Linked DNA regions of Homo sapiens. The protein of the gene in region 1 interacts with the protein of each later gene in a pairwise test. Each region holds a gene or a part of one and is shown in the gene's direction. Other genes may lie near its edges.

Region 1 (3,750 bases):
TAGTGAATTCTTAAGTTTTATACTTAGCTCTGGGGGTAAAAAAGAGGTTCTCAGGAACTAAGGCTCAAAACTGCCTATGAAAAGGAACTGGTAGCTGTTCCTTTATGGATCCTGGAGGCAGCTGGGAAAGCCTGTTCCTAGTGATCCATTCATACTTTCCACTGGCAGGTTAGGACTTTGGCTGCGGAGCACCAGGCAAGGGGAAAATCTGACTGAGTGTGGCAGTAGTGATATGCTGCTGGTTTTCTGTCCATTTTGTACATGACTGTTTATCTTTAGAAATAATATATTGCAGACTGCTATAAACACATAATTTGAACTGGAAATATGTTTAAGAAAAGGAAGTGTTTTGAACTAGAGGAATTTTATAAACATTCTTAGATGTCTGTAAATTAAAAGAAACTGTCAAGTCATTTGGGCCCATGCATTATCTCTCGGTGTATTATGAAAGGCAGGCTCTGGAAAGTTTGCATTAGAAGGGTAACTAAAATCGAAATCATGTAACTTTGCAGTTCTTTAGAAAATATAGTTTGGCTGTTTTATGAGTGAAACAAATTGCTTTTGCTAGGGAATTTTATAAAAACAAGGGCTCTTTCTCTCTTAGTTGGGTATTAGCAGAAGGAGGATGTCATTTAAGAAGGAAAGATCTTGAAAGATCAGGCTTGCAGAAAATGGATGTCTGAGAAGCAATTTGAGCATGCCCTTCAGCTTCTGCTTTTAGGACCTGATATGTCTAGTTTTGATGGTAACCACCCTTCGAGGGGTAGCCTACCCTGTGTAATATGATCACTTAAATGGCGCCTTGGATAATCATTAGTTTGGAAAGGATTTCAAAAGGTGAACTGGTTTGTTCCCTGGGTGGAACTAGTTTTCAAGTCTCCAAAAGCCCCCAGAGACCTGACTGGCCAGCTAGAGGTGGCTTGGAGTCTCCTTAGGTTGGCAAGGCCCCTGAAGCTGACCCAGTCACACAGAGCCCCACCAGCCCTGTCATTAAGGTTTATAGCAAGTCCAGTCAAGCCACTGTGCTGTTGGCATACCTGCTGGTGGGGATCCAGTTGTCCTGTGAGGAATGCCATCTGGGTTTAGATTCTCACTAGATTGTCCTTCTTCCATTGCCAAAAATCAAACTAAAAGATTTTGCCCATCCTTTTCTTCTTCCCAAGGCAGAAGGGTGCATTGCAGAATCTCCAAACCACTGAATTCTTTTCGTGGACTAGAGGCCAAAATAAAGTCTTAGAGAAAAGCCAGAAGTAATGAAGAAGAATCTTTGCTAAAACCAATCTACTCTTATTTAACTTTTTTAGTCAACTGTGACAGTACTATCATTTTCATTCTAATCATTTGGATTTAAATCTTGAAGAAGCCCTGGACTCATTCATCTTTGTTGGTTTCCACGTCCAGTCTGCCTCTAAGTCCAGCTGTGCATTCATTCTGCAGATATTTATTTCATACCTACTAGGTGCTTGAGGTAAAGCAGTGAGCAAACCAGGCAGATATCCCCCTGCCTTCTTGGAGCTTGCATTCTAGTGATCTTTCCGTTCATTTTTTCATGCCTTCAGTGGCCAGCGTGGAACTTCCTCAGGAGTGCCAACCGGCCCCAGAATGCCCTGGCCCATGGGAACCTGCACTTAAAGATGCAGCACCAACAGGTGTTTACCCAGCTCCTGACCTGAGCTCAGCACTGCAAAGAAGTCGGGGTTTGGAAATGTGGTCCCTTCCTGCAGCGCTAATCTTTTTTTTTTTTCCTCTTGAGATGGAGTCTCACTCTGTCACCCAGGCTGGAGTACAATGGCACTCTGCAACCACCACCTCACTGCAGCCACCTCACTGCAACCACCACCTCCCAGGTTCAAGCGATTCTCCTGCCTCAGCCTCCCGAGTAGCTGGGACTACAGGCACATGCCACTGCACCTGGCTAAATTTTGTATTTTTAGTAGGGATGGGGTTTCAACGTGTTGGCCAGGCTGGTCTCCAACTCCTGACCTCAGCTGATCCACCGCCTCGGCCACCCAAAGTGCTGGGATTATAGACGTGAGCCACTATGCCTGGCCATTGGTCTCTTCCTGCAGCACTAATCTTGATGGGACAGAAAATTTCAAATGAAGAGCTTTCCCTCTTTTTTTCTTCCTTGGGGGCATGCCAGCTTGTGCTTCTATGTCAGTAGCCTTGTAGTTGCCATTCCTGGCCCAGACACTTGCATGCAGTTTGGTTTGTCCTCCACCACTTTGATCATGTTGCCCATGGTCTAGACACCTCCGTGTCCTTGTTATCATGGCATATAGTCTGTATGCCTCTGCTGGATTTATAAGCGGCCCCATAATAGCCTTCCTTTCTGGTTACCCCCTTGATCACTTTCCACCACATCTCCCAGCCCTGGCCCATTGATATCACTATCATGAACACTCCCTGGACATTGCTACTTTTTCAGTGTTTCTCCTTTTAAATGCTATTGATTAAATGCAAGCTCCAAATACCTTTTCATGGCTGATCCAGCCCTGTTGTTTTTAATCCTTCTGTAAATAGCAAGGCATACTGATGATCAGAATCATTGAAAGTATGTGAAAATACAGATTTCAGGCCTCCTCTCAGACTTACACAATCAGAAACCTGAATGGGGGTGGGAGTGTGGGGGAAACTGTATTTTTATAAAGCGACTGAGATGATTCTAATGAATCAGACTAATTTGGGAATCGCTGGTCTAGATCACAGCATTACCCCTTAATTATGTGCTATTCTATGTTACTACTAGAGTTTTCAGCAGTAGCTGGGCTTAGAATACAAAGGGCTTGGGCTTGGGAGGTGGACAAGTCTGGGTTCAGATGCTGGTACCTTGCCACTTAATGTGTCAGAACTTGGACAGTATATTAAAGCTCTGAGTCACTTAAAAAAGTGTGTGTGTGTAAATTGGACCTAAGAATGCCTTTATAACATGACTGTTGTGAAGATGAAATGAAGGGAGCATATGAATGGTGCTTGAGGCACGGAAGATAGGACATTTTTTTTTCTTCCTTTCCTCTCTTGGCCTTTTTTTTTTTGGCAATGAAATGAATGAAATGAGGGAGCCATGTCAGATGTTCTTACCTCTCTGACATTCTAAATAGGTGAATTTTCTCTCCCATCAAGGTTAGTGCTATAGGAAGAAACCATGTTTCCAAATCTCCTACTCCTGTGCAGTGCTGAGCTGGGTAAACATCTGTTGACACTGCATGCTGAAGTGCAGATACCCGTGGGCCTGGACATTTTGGGGTTGGTTGGCACTCCTGAAGAAGTTTCACGCTGGCCACTGAAGGCATTATGGTTCAGGGTCAACTGAATACACCAGCCCCCAGTGGACCTGGGCTAGTTGTCCAGTTTTGATGCCTCTGCACTCAGTGTCATCAGCATTGCAGGGTTGGTGTCAAGAATAAAGAAGACATTGATGTAACGTCTTGACACATCAGCTGTGCACAGTCACACCTCCTCCTCTTCCCTGAGGCTGTGCTGAGATTCCAGCACATGGGAAGGAGAGAGTTAGAATTTAGTCTGTATCATGCGTTGGTATGCCGTTGGTCATTTAGAATGAGGTGGCAGGGGTAGTGAGTATATTTTGGGGATCTGGGGGCAGAAAAGGGATTATTTTTATTTTTTAAGTGTGGAAATGTGGCCTGGCGCGATATCTCATGCCTGTAATCCCAGCACTTTGGGAGGCCGAGGTGGGCCAATCACCTGAGGTCAGGAATTCGAGACCAGCCTGGCCAACATGGTGAAACC
Region 2 (3,750 bases), on another chromosome or scaffold:
CGAAGTGCTGGGATTACAGGCATGAGCCACTGTGCCTGGCCTATTCCTCACATTTTTCTCTTAGAAAGTTAAAGTCTCTGACCTTGAGATACAAAAATGTAAGGGTTTTCAGTGTTTAACATAAGGTACTTATATATATTATATATAGTATATATATAAAATAAATTAATATATTAATTTATTATATAAGTGATAAATGTTTAATTCAAATTAGAGTTCACCTTACGGTTGAAAATGTCTTTTAGTCAGAAAACTGAGGCATGGGAAGGTTAAGTGACATAGATCTAATAAGAGCTTCAGTATGAAAAGTAGTGAATGCTTGACCATCAGGGAGATACTTTTCCTAAGTATCCCATAAAATTTGTTCTAATCCATTAAATATATTTAGAAGACTTTATTTTATTTTTTTTATTTTTGAGACGGAGTTTCATGATTCTTGCCTAGGCTGGAGTGCAATGATGCGACCTTGGCTTACTGCAACCTCTGCCTCCTGGGTTCAAGTGATTCTCCTGCCTCAGCCTCCCAAGTGGCTGGGATTACAGGCGCCTGCCACCACTCCTGGATAACATTTGTTATTTTTAGTAGAGTGCTGAGATTACAGGCGTGAGCCATCGCTTACATTTTTATTGAGGGGAGAAAAAGCCCTGCATGTACTGAGAGATAGTTGTATAAGAATCTTAAGAGTTGGCCGGGCGCGGCGGCTCACGCCTGTGATCCCAGCACTTTGGGAGGCCGAGGCGGGCCGATCATGAGGTCAGGAGATCGAGACCATCCTGGCTAACACAGTGAAACCCCATCTCTACTAAAAATACAAAAATTAGCTGGGTGTGGTGGTGGGTGCCTGTAGTCCCAGCTACTTGGGAGGCTGAGGCAGGAGAATGGCCTGAACCTGGGAGGTGGAGCTTGCGGTGAGCCGAGATTGCGCCACTGCACTCCAGCCTGGGTGACAGAGCGAGACTCCATCTCAGAAAAAAAAAAAAAAAAAAAGAATCTTAATAGTTTCAACTGTTTATAAAACTTTTGAATTTTGGATTATATTATCTGTACTTTGCTTTACTGGGCCCAGGGGGAGTTAAGCTTTCCTTCTTATTACAGCTAAGAGTTTGCCTGTTGGACCACTTAACGCCCCCAGGGAGCATGTGCATGTCTAAAGATGGCAACTCTGTTTATGATTGCTGTTTTGGTTGGATTTCTAATATTCGGTGTGATTAAAGCAGAAATGCATTTCTAGCCACTGCTGATTACAGACATATTGCACTCTGATGGGTATCGCTTAGCAACTTAGTGCAGTAGACTCAGTTAAAAGAAGTGGATGTGTGCCATATTGACATTTTGAGCTCACATTCTTGTGGGTAATATAAAATTCCTTAACCTGATAATATTGCAGCTAAACCTAGTATTTAGGGTCTAAGTTGAATGAGTATTACCAATTTTAGAAGTAATCACCTCCTTGGTTAGGGAAATGACAGTTGCACAGGTGGACAGCCAGAAAGCTGAATGTTATCAGTTAAATCTTACATCTCTCCTTAACCTGCCTTCGTGGTGCCAAATAGCAAGTTTCTAATTGAAACTGACAAATTGTAGGTGTGTAGCTTTTTTTTTTTTTTTTTTGAGACAGAGTTTCGCTCTTGTCTCCTAGGCTGGAGTGCAATGGGGAGATCTCAGCATACTGCAACCTCTGCCTCCTGGGTTCAAGCCATTCTCCTGCCTCAGCCTCCCAAGTAGCTGGGATTACAGGCGCCCACCACCACGCCTGCCTAATTTTTGTATTTTTAGTAGAGACGGGGGTTTCACCGTGTTGGCCAGGCTGGTCTCCAACTCCTGGCTTCAGGTGATCCACCTGCCTTGGCCTCCCAAAGTGCTGGGATTACAGGCGTGAGCCACCACGCCCGGCCATGTGTAGCTTTTAATTGTGGTTCATTAACCCAGTTTCTAAGCAAATTAGAACCTTCTGTGTATCTCCCCTAGTTCTGTATGCCCCACTGGTTCCTGTAGAGCTTTATTTCTGAAGGGAAGTATGGGAAAACTATGGATATTTGAACTAAAAAAAAAAAAAAAAGAATTAAAAAGAACTCCATCCCAAAATGATTTGTTGTAAATATGTTCATTTAAAGCAATTATATTTTCCATATCTGATCAAGCAAAAGTAGTACATAAAAGCCAAAAAACCCAATTTAAAGAATATGTTATGGAATAAACTCTGATTTTAGAGGTTGTAGTAGCATATTTGTTGTTCTCATACATTGAGTGTTCATCTGAATGTACGTTGAATATGCGGTGAGTGATTCACAGTATAAAATGATTGGCAAGTATCTTCGAAATTACAAACCACATACTGATTAGACAAATAGATTTGCAAAACTGAAGCTTTTTGGATTTAAAAAATATCTCCTAGCCTCATTCTTCAAGCCTGGTGTGTAATTTTTATAAGGCCTTATAGTAGTTGAAAATGAGTACTCTTTTATGGTGACGAATTCTTTATGGTGAGTGAGAAATAATGCTTATTCTTCCAATTTTAGTATATGTGGTGCTGAATCGAGCACAATAATGCTTATTCTTTGCTTCGGAATTTTTTAATTTATTATTATTGTTATTTTAAATTTTTATTTATTTATTTATTTTGAGATGGAGTCTCACTCTGTCGCCCAGGCTGGAGTGCAGTGGCGCGATCTCAGCTCACTGCAACGTCTGCCTCCTGGGTTCAAGCGATTCTCCTGCCTCAGCCTCCCAAGTAGCTGGGACTACAGGCGCATGCCACCACGCCCAGCTAATTTTGTATTTTTAGTAGAGACAGGGTTTCACCGTGCTAGCCAGGATGGGTCTGAATTTCTTGATGTCGTGATCCACCTGCCTTGACTTCCCAAAGTGCTGGGATTACAGGCATGAGCCACCGTGCCCGGCCCGGAATTCATCCTTTAGAAAGATTTCTTCCAGCTGTTCCTCAGTTCTCTGCACTCCCTTACACTTTCCACCTTATCTGTCTGGGAACTAATTTAGTCTTTATGTTGGCTGCTTTCTTTTCACTTTTCAGGCTAAGATTTCCTTTCTCTTGGAAATCAGACGTTTACTTGGTCCTGCAGCTCTCTCTCTGTGGACCAGTCTTTTTTGTTGTTGTTGTTGCCAGATACTCACCGCCTCTACTGTTTATCCACCCATTTCCTTTATAACTCTGAAAAGTAGCTCCTGCCTCTGCTTGATTGCTGTTTTCTTGAAAGTGATTACTTCTGGCAAAACATAGTGGTCATTGCTTAGTTGTAATGCCACTGTGATGTTCCACTCCCCCCGGAAACCAATCTCTTCCAGTTCCCAAGACACAATACTTTTCTACTGAATTGGAGTTCCTTAGCGGGGGTCTTAGTTTTGTTCTGCTATTCAGTGCCTTTGTCCCTATCCTAGCCATTAGCTTTCCTATAGATCCTTGATTTCCTCATCTGTTGAAAAAGAAATGGCTAGAAAATCTTTTAGATTCTTTCAAGTTTAAATATTCGATGATTTTAATATTCTAACAGCATGTCTCTGTGACCCAGCAGTCTATTGGGAGCTGACCCCACTTGATTTACCAAACTCTTTCCCATTATGCCTCTGCATGCACCTATGTTCCAGGCAGGTCACCTCAGTCTCTTCTGTGTGTATCATGCTTCTTCCCACTTCTTGGCCTTTATTTCTGCCAGTCTCTGCCTGAATGCTTTAATTCCTCCTTTGTGCTTTTCTAATTCCTGTCCATCCTTCAATGTTCAGCTCAGATTTCAT

What was found.
Region 2: the proteins of SDC2 (region 1) and NF1 interact in binary tests that used the Homo sapiens proteins (3 or more experiments, as listed by UniProt).

What each region holds. Positions count from the first base shown.
Region 1 is NC_000008.11:96,496,739-96,500,488, forward strand, and holds part of SDC2 (syndecan-2 precursor), read left to right. Parts: intron 1-3,750. UniProt on the Homo sapiens protein: Cell surface proteoglycan which regulates dendritic arbor morphogenesis.
Region 2 is NC_000017.11:31,097,966-31,101,715, forward strand, and holds part of NF1 (neurofibromin), read left to right. Parts: intron 1-3,750. UniProt on the Homo sapiens protein: Stimulates the GTPase activity of Ras. NF1 shows greater affinity for Ras GAP, but lower specific activity. May be a regulator of Ras activity.